Homo sapiens: one gene and its partner. The protein of the gene in region 2 interacts with the protein of the main gene of each other region in a biochemical or structural test. Each region holds a gene or a part of one and is shown on either strand. Other genes may lie near its edges. The genes, in order: GNG2 and PLEKHG2.

The links.
Region 1: the proteins of PLEKHG2 (region 2) and GNG2 form a complex in vitro, tested with the Homo sapiens proteins (one study listed by BioGRID).

What each region holds. Positions count from the first base shown.
Region 1 is NC_000014.9:51,947,548-51,954,819, forward strand, and holds part of GNG2 (guanine nucleotide-binding protein G(I)/G(S)/G(O) subunit gamma-2 precursor), read left to right. Parts: intron 1-3,102; coding exon of another isoform or gene 3,103-3,131; coding exon 3,132-3,218; intron 3,219-7,272. UniProt on the Homo sapiens protein: Guanine nucleotide-binding proteins (G proteins) are involved as a modulator or transducer in various transmembrane signaling systems.
Region 2 is NC_000019.10:39,415,565-39,422,836, reverse strand, and holds part of PLEKHG2 (pleckstrin homology domain-containing family G member 2), read right to left. Parts: intron 6,490-7,272; coding exon 6,423-6,489; intron 6,287-6,422; coding exon 6,240-6,286; intron 5,988-6,239; coding exon 5,837-5,987; intron 5,283-5,836; coding exon 5,145-5,282; intron 4,933-5,144; coding exon 4,732-4,932; intron 4,104-4,731; coding exon 4,011-4,103; intron 3,921-4,010; coding exon 3,834-3,920; intron 2,212-3,833; coding exon 2,178-2,211; intron 2,087-2,177; coding exon 1,985-2,086; intron 1,889-1,984; coding exon 1,841-1,888; intron 1,763-1,840; coding exon 1,724-1,762; intron 1,555-1,723; coding exon 1,538-1,554; intron 723-1,537; coding exon 549-722; intron 106-548; coding exon 1-105. UniProt on the Homo sapiens protein: May be a transforming oncogene with exchange activity for CDC42. May be a guanine-nucleotide exchange factor (GEF) for RAC1 and CDC42. Activated by the binding to subunits beta and gamma of the heterotrimeric guanine nucleotide-binding protein (G protein).

The DNA of each region.
Region 1 (7,272 bases), on a different chromosome or scaffold from region 2:
CTAGAAAATGAAAGAAAGTGAACTCTCAGAGCCTCAAAAAGGAACACAGCCCTGCTTGTACCTTGACTTTAGCCCAGTGAGACCCATTTGAGACTAATGCTCTCCAGAATTATAAGATAATAAATTTCTATTGTTTAAGCCCCTAAACTTGTAGTAATATATTACAGCAGCAATAGAACAAATATATTCTCTATCTCAGCCTCCTCAAGCCACTCACAGCTTTTCCCAGGGAGCATGAAAAGGCATTGAGACACAGACTTTCCTTGATGCTTGAATGACAATAATGGGTCATTTACTCAGTTAATAGCAGGTCTGTTGGCTAATGACAGAGAACCCCTCAATAATGGTGGCATCAATAAGATAGGCACTTATTTCTCTGTCACATCAAAGGTAACCATCTCACAGTTGGCATGGTGGCTCCACAAAATCAGTAAGGACCCAGATCCTTCCTGTTCACCCTAGTGTAGCAGTCATGCTAGAGGTTCAAGAGGGACTTCTGTGATCAATGCAGATGCCTCCCAGGCCAGTAGCAGGAGGAAGGAGAGACAAGGCGTATACCTCTTCCCTTCAAGAACATTTCTGCTTATATCTCATTGGCCAAAACTTAGTCATGTAACTATACCTAGCTGCAAGAGAGGCTTGGAATGTATCTTTCGGCTAAATACACCTAGCTAAAATTCAGGGTTCTTGTGGTCTCCACTAAGAAAAAAAGTGTCGTTACTAATGAAGAAGAAAGGAAGAGGGATTAGAAGGCAAGTTGTGATCTCTGCCACAGGTCACCCTGTAATCTGGTGTAGATTCAGGGCAGAAGAGTCACTGGCCAGAATCTCAAATGTCCCAATAAGAATTTGGTAATTCTGTGATAGTCTGCATTCCAGCCAGATGAATGAATTCCAGTTTGGCAGAAACATTCGCTTCACAGAACAGCATCCAGGGGCTTGTAGATTGTGGCTGCATCCAATATTGGATGAATAGAAGAGTTAGGCTACCCTTCTGAATAAGTCAATGCTCTATCTTGGCCCTATGAAGTCTTCCTAGGCTGTTAGATGTTTGTTTAATTGTGGAGCATGTAATTTCCCTGTGAGGCTGCGATGATTGGGTCTCTAACCATGCTAATGAAATAATACTTGTTAAAGTCTCCTTTTATTATTTTGTTTTTCCATGCAATTCTCCTTCCTTTGATCTCCAAATGTGTAAAAGTAGAGTTCAGAGATCTCTGTGACTTCAAAAATTCCTTCAATCTTCCCTCTCATTTTATTGTCTCCAAACTCTTTGAAAATAAATTGAGGGATGGCCGGGCGTGGTGGCTCATGCCTGTAATCGCAGCACTTTGGGAGGCCGAGGTGGGCGGATCACGAGGTCAGGAGATCAAGACCATCCTGGCTAACATGGTGAAACCCCGTCTCTATTAAAAATACAAAAAATTAGCCAGGTGTGGTGGCGGGCACCTGTAGTCCCAGCTTCTCAGGAGGCTGAGGCAGGAGAATGGCATGAACCTGGGTGGTGGAGCTTGCAGTGAGCCGAGATCGCGCCACTGCACTCCAGCTTGGGCGACAGAGGCAGACTCCGTCTCAAAAAAAAAAAAAAAAGAAAAGAAATTGAGGGAACAATTAATTATGCTCCAATTTATTCTGTAAATGATGTTGGGTGGCTTATTTTGTAGTATTCTTCAACATAATATTCTCCATGAAGGGATTTGTATGTTACAGAGAGTTATACCTAATTTCTTCTTTTGTCTTGAAGAACTGGATATCAAGAAATAACTACCAAAAGAGATAATTTATAGACTTTTGCTTTTTGGTCATTAAGACAATAATTATTTGTTGATTTTAGTTGGTAGGTTAAAAAAAATCTATGTACAGAATTTGTTACGGGTTATTCTTCATTTTCCAGGTTTTCTGTGTGTTCTTTTTCTTTTTAAGATAAGTAACCTGATCTTACTTCATCCTTTGGTAAAAAGATTGTCCAAAGCTAGCAGAAGTCATTATTTTTTATATAATATCTTCAGAACAAGATTCCATTAGTGTTGACGAGGCAGTGTTTAATGTTTCTGTTTCATGGGTCATGCACTCTAGTCAAATCAAAGCACTTAGGTTTTGCTTTATCCAATAGGATATCAGTGATCTCAAGGAGCATATTTACACAGGTAGTCCTAAAATTGCATATGACACCTTGACACAAAGTAAGATTTGTTCAGAATGTGGGGGAAGTGGGCATCAGCAACGGGAATAAAATAAGGTATTTTCCAAGATGAACAATAATAATAAAGTGAGATGGTATGTCAAGAAAGGATAAGAAGAGAAATGAATGTGGGATAGGATTTGAAGGGGGAGGGGAGCACACATGGAGAAAGAGGTATGGCAGAGACAAAGAAACCATCTCGCAATCTGCCTAGGAACAGAACTCTACTCTCAAACCCTGGCCTCAAGGGATCCTCCCACCTTGACCTTTCAGAGTGCTGGGATTACAGATGTGGGCCACCATGCCCAGCCAAGAACTCTACTCTCAAAATGTTTATGTTCCAGATTTATAAAAGAAATCAGTTAATAAGTTTGTTGTACTTCATTTAGAATAACACTGGTGAACTAATTGTCATATTTAGAGATTAGGCATGGCAATCCCTCCCATTTGGCATGATAGATGTGTCCCTGAGGAATTATGAGTAAAGTAGATCGTTGTGACTCAAACTTTAATTTCAAATAGAGTGGGGAGGAATGGCTATTTACAGCAATGCTGGATTAAGTGACACTGAAAAGCCAAGCCTCCCACTATAGTGTCTCTGTAGTATAATACGCTGAGGTGGTCACAGTTAACCAGAAGGATGGGGTTTGAGCCCACTGGGAGAACATTTGGTAATATTCTTTGTGTGTGTGTTTTTTTTCTCTCTAAAGAAGGGATGGGGAAGTAGGGAGAATTGGAAAATCAAACCTCATCCTCTGCTCTGCCTGCCAGTCAGAGGTAATACCGACCAAGGATGGAGAGGGCTGGAGAAGCCAGGCCTGGCTACAGCCACTGCTTTGAGATCCCCTAGTTACGATGAACTTGCACATTTGCTGGCTCATGAATTCTCTGGTACAATCTTCTTTTTGTTTTCTTTTCTAGTGTTTCTGAAAGATCTATCCAGCACTCCGATGGCCAGCAACAACACCGCCAGCATAGCACAAGCCAGGAAGCTGGTAGAGCAGCTTAAGATGGAAGCCAATATCGACAGGATAAAGGTGAGGATGGTCTAACCCCACACTTCATCTAGCGTGAGTCTAAGGCGCATGTCATGTGACCACTCTTTCCTAGAGAGGGATAAAACCAGTAATGACAGGAGAGCATCTTAAAGATTAGGCAGAAGTTCATTTCTAACGTGTCTTTCCCTTCTCCAGCATAAAATAATAGAATGAATTAGATCCTCTTTCCCATGTAGAATTAAAACCTAACAACACAACACAAAAAAAAAAGCAAAACAGGCTCATGGTTAAATTCCAGTGAGAGAAATTAGAGAACACATAAAATATATCAGCGCACTAGTTCCCCTCCCTGTCCTCATGGAAACGTTTTTCTTATTTGGTTTTTAATTTTTTCTGTCCTGGTTCAGGTTCTAAGGCTAAATGTCCGTATTTTGGGTCTAACACTTCTAGTTATCCTTGCACGTTATAAGTTTTTTCTTCTTTATACTTTATTGAATTTTTTTCCTGCAAACACAAAAGTCACACCTTGCCTCCCTAAGAAGTCAAACAACAAAGAGGTTTAATGAAAGTTCATAGTCTATGTGTTTCTTTTTTTCCTCTCCCTCCCCAGACCTAACCTGACAGCTTTGCTGTAAGCTGGGGCTAATTCATCTGGAACCAAGACTTTAAATTCAAACCCTTCGTTGGTAGTTTTCAGATGAAAACCTTGGCCAATATGCTGTCGTTATTAATAGATAGCTATGGCACGGTGGCAAAGTAAATTTCTGTTAACCATCAAAACTTTACTGCCCCAGAAGTAAAATGCCTTACCCAAGAATTCTATGAAATGCAGCTCAGACACATATCTCATTGTACTAAGCTAAAACTACAACCTTCTTCCAAATGCCCTTTTAAAACTAGAATATTTTTCCTATTTTCTCCATACCTAATTCAGCACCTGGGCAATCCAGCTGTCCTTTGGAGTCTGACAGGGTCAATAAAATTTGGCTCATGGGCCAAAGCCAGCCCACTGCCTATGTTTATAAAGAAAGTTTTATTAGAACACACTCATTTACATATTGTCTATGGCTGCTTTCACTCTAAAACAGCAGAGTAGGGTGGTTGTAACAGAGACCATATGGCCCACAAAGCTAAAATATTTATTCTCTGGTGTTTCACAGGAAGTTCACTGACCCCTGGTCTACAGCGATGGTTCTCAGCTCATCTGTGCGTTCCCAACACCCAGAGAGCTCTATAAAAGGACCAATTACCGAACCACACCCAAACCAATTAAATTAGAATCTCCTGGGGTATGATTCAGGCATCAGTATTTTTTAAAAAGAATTTTTCAGTTCATTCCGATGTATAGCCAAGGTTGAGAACCACTGTCCTATGGGAAGGAGTTTACTTCTGCTAAGTCTCATCAGGTATGTGCTAGAGAGTGAAGAGAGAGCTCTTCTTTCTCTACAAGTAAGATGAGCAAATACCCATGGACATTTTCCCATTATCCTAAATCTCCTTTGTAAAATTTGATGCCTAGTAATGGACCACAGGATTTAATCAGCTCCTGCTCTTCTTTCAACAGCCTTAATTCTTCTTCTTTCTTCATGACTGAGATCACTAAAGCGACCTTACCGTGCTCCTTTGCCATCTTCCTCTTCTCCTCTTTTCTTGCTTCTTCTTTTTCACTCTCTTGCTGAAAAAGCACAAAGCAACAGGTGGGCACAATACCTGCTGAGAGAAGTAAGGTGGCCCATGGATTGTCAAATCAGAAAGGGTCATTCAGTTCTTTTTGAGGGAGAGGAGGTTCTGCCCATGGGCCTTCTGGAAAATACCACTTTGACTTTTGAGGTGGTCCAACTATGATAAAAGTCTGTGAAGCTTTACTGTGGTTGATGTTTTCTGTTAATATTCAGCATCCCCAGTTACTGTTCCTGAAGGAGGATATGATGTGCTCATGGGTGATGAAAACTGACAGCAGAAGAAAGATAATAGAAATAGAGCTTTTCAGAAATAGTTTAGACTTTTATCATCCCTCACCTGAATTACTGACTGCAAGGGGCTCCTATTTGCTGTCTGCAATTCCATCTCAATACATCTCCATCCCGCCATCAATTACCTTCCATATTCCTTCCAAATATAATGTTCTAAAAGAAAATCTAATTACATTCCTCTTTATTGAAAATCAGCTCATGATTCCCCATCACCAGTAAAATAAAATTCAGGCCCTTTAGCAGTGTATACAAAGTTCCTGTGACCCCTGTCATCTCTTCAGCTTCATTCCTGCTCTCTTTTCTGCATGCCATATAGAACAACTTTTAATTCTTTTGATGGGAATTTCAAATGCCTAGAACATCCAGTCTCCTTTGCCCCTCTACCTTGCTGCTTTACTTACCTTACTTTACTTAACACTTGACTGCATTGACTCATTAAAGATTCAGATCAAATTATTAGGTCCTTTAAAAAGTTTTCCTAGACCCGCATCATAAGGTTGGATTTTTGCTGTTTGTTCAGTTGTTCATTCATTTACTTATATAATAAATACTTTACTGAGAGCTTTCTAAATTGCAAGGGCTTGTTAGGTTCTAAAGAGATGGAGATAGACAAAAACATGATTCTTGCTCTCAAAAATCCCTGACCTAGTTGAAGACTACAAAAAAATTGAACAAGGCCTATTATTGACGCAAACAAGATATCCAAGAAGCATAGTTACCAAATGTGATCAGAAAGAAGCCAATACCACACTCTGATTGCCCTTTGAAGAGACACAAATAAATCAATACTAAAAAAGAAGCAAAGCATGAACCTGATAAACTGGGTGTGAGTAGTTGCCTTCCTAGGTGATCTTCACATTCAAATCTCTGAATCCCACTTGATGTCATTGGACCTTACATTGTTAGAAATACAGCAGCATCCTGTATTTCAGCATTTGTTCTGTACCTCAGAGCCAGGCAGGCTTGCTGTGGTGAAGTGACAGATTATTTTTAGTTGAGCAGTTGGATAAAGTGTTGACTGTGTTGACACGGTTGTCAGCTAGCTGGTTTAGGGCTTGGTTATCTGCCTTTAGAAGTCTTTTCAAGGCTTTTGAGCATTCAGGCTTCCCCACCTACTTTCCATACATGATCCTTCAGCAGGAAGGGGCTTCTCTCTGAAGATCCCAGGCTTGTGATTTTCCAGTGAGAGTAGTGACCTCTTCAAGCTATAAAGGATAGAAATGGCTTTATATACGTCTGGCAGAACCTACTGCAACTGAGGTGGCAAAGAATAGGACTCTTAAGAGGAGGATTTGGGGACACAGCTGGAATTGAAGTTGTTGAGGGTCCCTTAAGCAGGCGGTGGCCTTATCCCTCATGTGACCCCCAGAATAAATTATGCTGCATAGAGTAGCCCTACTCTATGAATAACATAGTTACATGAATAGCATGTTTGTTTTTTAAGCCTTCTTGTTTTCTATCCCTTTACATCACAGACCCTGGGAGATTTGGGCTAAGTGAACCAATTATCTGTTCATAAGCCTCGGGCATATATAAATTATACTCTCAGCCTCTTTGTATTTCTTTGTTAGGATTTCATTCAAGGACAGAGGGTAAAGAGAAATAAAAGGAAATTGGGAAGAGAGTTAGGGGAAGGGGGAGAGAGGGGCTGTGGACTGTGACACCTGGATGAATGAAACAGCAATAGACTCACACTAACACTGACCAAAGACAAAATGAAAGAAACCTTGTCCTTAGAGCACAAGAGGAGGGAACATGCACAAAAGTAAAGGACAGCAGGGCTTCAGTAAATCTGTTTATTCATCATTGTATTAGGACTCTTTGAGTTTCTAATAATAGGAATCTCAACCAAGCTAGCTGAAGCAGAAAGAGGTACTGATTATAAAAGATACAGGATGTCTCAATCCAAGAGCAGAAATGTGGCTAGATAGGCAGTGGAAGTGAGAACTGGAAGGCCATTGAGAACTGCGAGTGCTCCGTCACCTGTCTCTGCTCCTCTCTCTGTGTCTGCCTCTTCCTTTTCCTGGGAAGAAGGGATTTTTAGCTGCCAGGTCCATATAGCAGGCACAAGATGGCTGCCCATGGTTCCCAGGATCACAACTCATAGTTCCAGCTCCATG
Region 2 (7,272 bases):
CTCTTCTGAAGAGTCCCGGCTGGGCAGGGCTTGGAATGTGAGGGTTTCGCTGTCGCCAGGCACCTGGGAGTCTCCGGGGAACTTGGGAATGTCATGGGTGGACGGCTATAGTGGGCACAGGAGAACAAGCCAAACATATCAGCATGGTAGCTGGGTGTGGTGGCTCACGCCTGTAATCCCAGCACTTTGGGAGGCTGAAGTGGGCGGGTCACTTGAGGTTACGAGTTCGAGACCAGCCTGGCCAACATAGTGAAACCCTGTCTCTACTAAAAATACAAAAAAAAAAAAAAAATTAGCCGGGTGTGTTGGCGGGTGCCTGTAGTCCCAGCTACTCAGGAGGCTGAGGCAGGAGAATCGCTTGAACCTGGGAGGCAGAGCTTGCAGTGAGCCGAGATGGCGCCACTGCACTCCAGCCTCGGCAACAGAGCAAGACTCCATCTCAAATAAAAAAAAAATAAAGGTATCAGCATGGGCTGGCCTATCTGGTCCCTGGTCTGTGTGCCCACACCCAGAGGCCCAAGGACACCATGATGGGACAGCCAGCTCACCCCTGGATCTCGAAGGCCTCGCTGATTCAGCAGTTCCAGGATTTCTTCAGTGATTGAGGTCCCAGAGGGGTCCAGTGTTGGGGGTCCAGCATCCTCCAGGTCCTCAGGGGGTGCAGAGCCTGAAACTGGTGGCTGAGATTCTGGAGGGTAGAGTTCCCCTTCGCTGCCAGCGTGCTGTGAGGAGGGAAAGCAATGGAAGGCAAGAGCCAAGACTCCTCCCTCACATAGAGGACCCCAAGTCCCAATCCCCTTCTTTTGCGTTTGTTTGTTTTGAGATGGAGTCTCGCTCTGTCGCCCAGCCTGCAGTGCAATGGCGCCATCTCTGCTCACTGCAATCTCCGCCTCCCGGGTTCAAGCGATTCTGCTGCCTCAGCCTCCTGAGTAGCTGGGATTACAGGCGCCTGCCACAATGTCCAGCTAATTTTTGTATTTTTAGTAGAGTCGGGGTTTCTCCTTGTTGGCCAGCCTGGTCTCAAATTCCTGATCTCAGATGATCCACCTACCTCGGCCTCCCAAAGTGCTGGGATTACAGGTGAGCCACCGTACCTGGCTCAATTTTTAAATTTTTTTATTTTTCTCTTAAAATTTTTATTTATTTATTTGAGACAGGGTCTCACTGTGACCCATGCTGGAGTGCAGTGGTGTGTCCCAGCTCATTTTGCAACCTCTGCCTCCCAGGCTCAAGCAATCCTCCCACCTCAGTCTCCTGAGTAGCTGGGACTATGGGCATGCACTAGTGTGCCTGGCTAATTTTTTTGTACTTTTTGTAGAGATGGGGTTTTGCCATGTTGCCCAGACTGGTCTCAAACTCCTGGGCTCGAGCAATCCTCCTGCCTTGACCTCCCAAAATACTGAGATTACAGGCATGAGTTACTCTGTCTGGCCCCAATCCCCTTCTCATTCAGACCCAGGATTTTGGAACTCAAGCTCCCTTCTCCATCAGACCCAGAAGTCAAGGTGCCCAGACCCTATCTCGAGATATCTCTTACCTTGAATCCAGGCTTAGCTAAGGATGGAGAGATGAGAGAGAGAGAAGCATTAGTGAGATGTAAGGGAAAAAGAGTGATTCCCCCATAACTGATGAGCTGAAGCAACCACCCCTCCCCAACCCGCCCCAGACATCCCACCGGGCGACAGACAGGGATGGACCAGGCTGAACCGGGGCAGTCACTGACCGTTCTGTGGGAACATGACATAAGGGTCCTTCACCGGCTCTGCGGGGAGGACACAGTGATGTCAGGAGCCCAGCTCCCACCCCGATGCCTGGATCACCCTTAGGGGTGAGTGCTCACCAGACTGCCTGCGGCCTCGGCGAATCACAGAGGGCCCAGGAGATGGAGCTGTGGGAGGGAGGGCCAGAGCCCTGTGTGAGCCCAGCTCCCGGGTCCTAGGGAAGTGGGGCTGAGGGCTGGGACTCAGGGATCCACCGCCTTTACCTGTGTTCCTTCGCCCAGGGGTAAAACTTCTAGCATCTCGAGGTCGAGGAGACCCAAGTGGGGGTGTCAGGGGCTCTAGGACAGGCTTACTTTTGGGGGCACCTGTGGGGAGAGTTTTGGGGCTAAAAGCCAACTTTTTCTTGGAAGTAATTCGTCTACTTCCACACCCTCCCAGCCCAAGGCCCCAACTCACAATGCAGGCTGTTTTCAAGGAGAACTTGCTTTGCCTGAAAGACAGGAGGATGAGGGCTGAGGTGGGTCGATCTTGGAGTACCACAGAGAGGATACTTTAAGCACCGTAGTCATGCCCATTAATGGGTGCTGTTTTTGTTTTTAGATCTTGCTCTATACGCCAGGTTGGAGTACAGTGGTGCAATCATAGCTCACTCCAGCCTCTACTTCTGGGATCAAGCGATCTTCCCACCTCACCCTCCTGAGTAGCTGGGATTTCATATGTGCACCATCACATCCAGCTAATTTTTTTTTTTTTTTGAGACGGAGATTTTGCTCTTGTTGCCGAGGTTGGAGTGCAAAGGCGCGATTTCGGCTCACTGCACCCTCTGCCTCCTGGGTTCAAGCGATTCTCCTGCCTCAGCCTCTTGAGTTGCTGGGATTACAGGTGCCCGCTACCACACCCGGTAATTTTTGTGTTTTTAGTAGAGACGGGGTTTCACCATGTTGACCAGGCTGGTCTTGAACTCCTAACCTCAGGTGATCCACCCGCCTTGGCCTCCCGAAGTGCTGGGATTACAGGCGTGAACCACCACGTCCAGCCCAGCTATTTTATTTTTATTTTTTTGAGACGGAGTTTCGCTCTTCTTGCCCAGGCTGGAGTGCAATGGCATGATCTCGGCTCACCGCAAGTTCCGCCTCCCAGGTACAAGTGATTCTCCTGCCTCAGCCTCCCTAGTAGCTGGGATTACAGGCATGCGCCACCATGCCCAGCTAATTTTTCTTTTTCTTTTTTTTTTTTGAGACAGAGGCTCACTCTGTTGCCCAGTCTGGAGAGCGCAGTGACGCAACCTAGGCTCACTGCAAGCTCTTGCCTCCTGGGTTCACGCCATTCTCCTGCCTCAGCCTCCCGAGTAGCTGGGACTACGGGCACCTGCCACCACGCCTGGCTAATTTTTTGTATTTTTGGTAGAGATGGGGTTTCACCATGTTAGCCAGGATGGTCTCGATCTCCGGACCTCGTGATCCGCCCGCCTCGGCCTCCCAAAGTGCTGGGATTACAGGCATGAGCCACCGCGCCCGGCCTAATTTTGTATTTTTTAGTAGAGATGGGGTTTCTCCATGTCGGTCAGGCTGCTCTTGAACTCCTGACCTCAGGTGATCCGCCCGCCTTGGTCTCCCAAAGTGTTGGGATTACAGGTGTGAGCCACCGTGCCTGGCCAGCCCCAGCTAATTAAAAAATGTTTTTTAGAGACAGGGTCTCACTATGTTGCCCAAGCTGGTATCGAACTCCCGGGCTTAAATGATCCTCCCACATCACCCCCTCGAAGTGCTGGGATTATAGGCATGAGCCACCACAGCCAGCTGATGGGTGCTTCTATTGGTCAAGCCCATGACGTGGCTGGTGACCATTACTCATCACCACAACCCTAGGATGAAGGCGCTTTCATTCCTCTAGGTGAGGAAGTTAAGGCTCAGAGAGGTTAAGTTACTTGCCCAAGGTCACAAAGCAGGGACATGGTAGAGCTAAGATTCAAACCCAAGTAGCGGAATTCTGCACTTTTAGCAATCACATTATAACAGACTGCTCTGGCATTGGGCAGGGGCGTCTCTTAGTACTATTGGGGGAGGGTGTCTCCAGCACTCAGAGGGCCCCCGGCTGCGGCAGGAGCTGTACCTTGGCAGGGATGGAGGCAGGGTGGTTCTCAAAGAAGAGGCGCTGGAGACAGTGAATCCACAGCCTCTTCTCTTCTTGGTTCTTGGCCTAGGAGTGGGTTGGAGTAGAGTCAGGGGGCCAGGTGTGAGGTCTCGAGGCTGGGGGATCCCTGCCAGCCTGATCCCACTACATGCTCACCTGGAGCAGGTGTCTGTGCTTGGGAATGGTCAGATCAGACACCTTGAACCCTAGAGGGTCTCGGGGACTCTCGCTCACGCTCAGGTTGCAGCACTGGAAGGAAAGAGAGGGGTAGCAAGCTCAGAGTCCTTGGGCTCAGTGATGCCCCTTGTACGGAGACACCCTTGGAGGTGTATCTGGGTCCTCCTCCCTAGGAAGATGCATCCCATAAGGCTGTATGGTGGGTTTCCTCTCCCTTTTTTTTTTTTGAGACAGAGTCTTGCTCTGTCACCCAGGCTGGAGTGCAGTGGCATGATCTTGGCTTATTGCAACCTCCGCCTCCTGGGTTCAAGTAATTCTCCTGCCTCAGCCTCCCCAGTAGCTGGGATTACAGGCACTTGCCACCACGTCCAGCTAATTTTTGTATTTTTAGTAGAGACGGGGTTTCACCACGTTGGCTAGGCTGGTCTCGAACTCCTGACCTCAAGTGATCCGCCCGCCTTGACCTCCCAAAGTGCTCGGATTACAGGAATGAGCCACCACGCCCAGCCTTCTCCTTTTTTTTCTTAAGTGGGGCAGCTCTCATTCTATACACTAGAAAGAAAGCTTCCCTTGGCTTCCATTCTCTAACTCAAGAAAATGTGGCAGGGTCCCCTGGCCCACACTGCCGGGCACACAGATACAGGTATATGGGATATACTTTGTAGGTAGTATTCTAGCCCCACCCCATCCCCAAACTCACGAAGATGTGGCCTTTGTAGGTGTACTCCAGCCCCCTGCGCTTGGCCACCAGCAGCATCCGAGAGAACAGGAAGAGCAGCCGCTCACCCCCTCGTAGCCGGGGGCCACCCCCTCCGCCTCCTCGGAACGCGCCCTCCAACACCAGTTCCCCAAAAGCACTGAGCTCTGGTCCGGTCCAGCCACCCAGCCGCCGCTGCACTTCCTGCCGGGACCCCGCCAGGTGCGCCGGGGCGCAGAGACAAGCATGGGTAGGTGGCACACACATACACACCAAAACAGGGGGTTAGCAACAGGGCCATGCTGTCCCAGCCAACCCTCCAAGGCTACCTCTGAGGCACTGATTTCCCCCCACCCGCCCCAAGGCCCCCTCGCTCACTCCCTCATCCAGCAAGCCCCAGCCCACCCTGGGGCCACCTGGAGGCGCGCTGCATGCTCCTGCTTGCGCTTCATGTCGTTGATGTACCAGGCAACCGCTGTCATGGACACAATAGCTTCCTCCACCATCTCGCGACCCCCAGTGCCTGGGCCCTCCGCCCAGTGCTTCCCTAGTTCCTGTCAGGCAGCCACCAGGCACGCAGGGATGGGGAGAGAAACAGAGAAGGAGAAAGAGAATGAGAATAACAGGAGATGGAGAAATATAAAGATAGGGGCAGAGGCCAGGCGCAGTGGCTCATGTCTGTAATCCCAGCACTTTGGGAGGCTGAGGTGGGCAAATCACCTGAGGCCAGGAGTTCGAGACTAGCCCGGCCAACGTAGTGAAACCCCGTCCCTATTAAAAATACAAAAATTAGCTGGGCATGGTGGTGTGCGCCTGTAATCCTAGCTACTCAGGAGGCTGAGCAAGGAGAATCACTTGAACCCAGGAGGTGGAGGTTGCAGTGAGCCAAGATCGCACCACTGTACTCCAGCCTCATCGACAAGAGTGAAACTCCACCTCAAAGGGAAAAAAAAAAGCTAGGGCTGTGCGCGGTGGCTCACGCCTGTAATCCCAGCACTTTGGGAGGCCTTGCCCAACTCGTGGGGGGTCCATCCTCCAGATGAACCAACAGGTGGTCAAGGGACAGGACCTCCCCCTCCCCAGCCTGGCTCCAGGGGCCCCAGCTGACCTGCAGCAGCAGATGGTACTTGAGAATGCGCTGGACAGGTTTCAGCAGGAAGCTCTGCAGGGGCAGCGAGTGGCGAAGCTGGGCCTGGCGCTCCTGCAGCCACAGGGCTGCTGGCGGAGACAACGACAGCTCCCGGAGCAGGGCCAGGGAGCTGGGGGCACAGCACAGGTCAGTGGGGATTGTCAGTTCCAGTGGGCGGGGTCAAGAGGGGTTAGGGAGGGGCCAGGGTTTGGGAAGGGTCAGGGTCTGACAGGGGGCGGGGCAGTGAGGGAGAGGTCAGTTACTGTCACAGCCTGGCAGGGGTCGGTGCTGGATGGGTCGGGGGTAGAGGGAGGGTGACGGGTGACTGGCACATCAGCTTGTGGGCACAGCCTGAGGCCCAGCAGGGGCTCCTGCCCCTCACCTCGGGTAGTTCATGCAGTACAATGTGTAGATGTCAAAATCCTCGCTCTGCGGGTGACATGGGAGTCAGGGAGACCCCAGGTCCTGGCTTCCCACGACCCCCCTTCCAGCCTAGCCCAAGCCTGCTCTCCCCCCTCTACAAAGGCCCCATCCAGGACCGAGAGCCCCCCACCCCTCCACTCACCCTCTGCACGAAGCACTCGGCAATACCCCCGGCGCTGCTGCTGTTCTCCAAGTCCTCCAGGAGCTCGCTACAGGGGAGAGGGGAGGGTGAGGAACCGCCTGCCTTCACGACCCCTCCATGGGAGGCCTCCAGGAGGCTGAGGCCCCAATGGTCTGCTGGGGCTGGGGGCTTGCTGACTGCCAGCATCTCCTAAGGGGATGTCATGTCCGGAGGAAGGGTCCTCTGAGGGCTACACGGGGCATGGTAACCTGCTTAGACTTTGTCCCTGGACAGCTTCTCATTCCTCAGCTTGAACTTGTGTCAGTGCTGGCATGAGCCTAGGGGTGTTATATCATGACCCAAAGAGCTAGGATGATCTTAAGTTCCTGCTGTAATCCCGAGACCTCGTCAAGGTACTTGGAAATGTCATGATCCTTGGACCCCAGAGTCCTCCTTACCACAGTGACCAACCATCCTGGTTTGTCCGGGACTGAGCAGTTTCCTAGGACGAGGGCTTTCAGTGCTAAAACTGGAAAAGTCCCAGGCAAATCAGGCTTAGGGGGTCACTCGCATGCTCACGCTGTCTCGGCCTTCAGGCCCCATATGATTCTTGGATTCATCGTGAGCCCAGACCTGACACAGCCCCAAGGACTCGTCCTGATGCCGGGACCCTGTCCCAGTGTTTGGGCTTCATCCAGGTCCTCTGACTCCCATCCGCTATGCCCCTCCCTCACTCGGGGTCCTCCCATCCGCTATGCCCCTCCCTCACTCGGGGTCCTCCCATCCGCTATGCCCCTCCCTCACTCGGGGTCCTCCCATCCCCTATGCCCCTCCCTCACTCGGGGTCCTCCCTCCCAGTCGTGATCCCTGA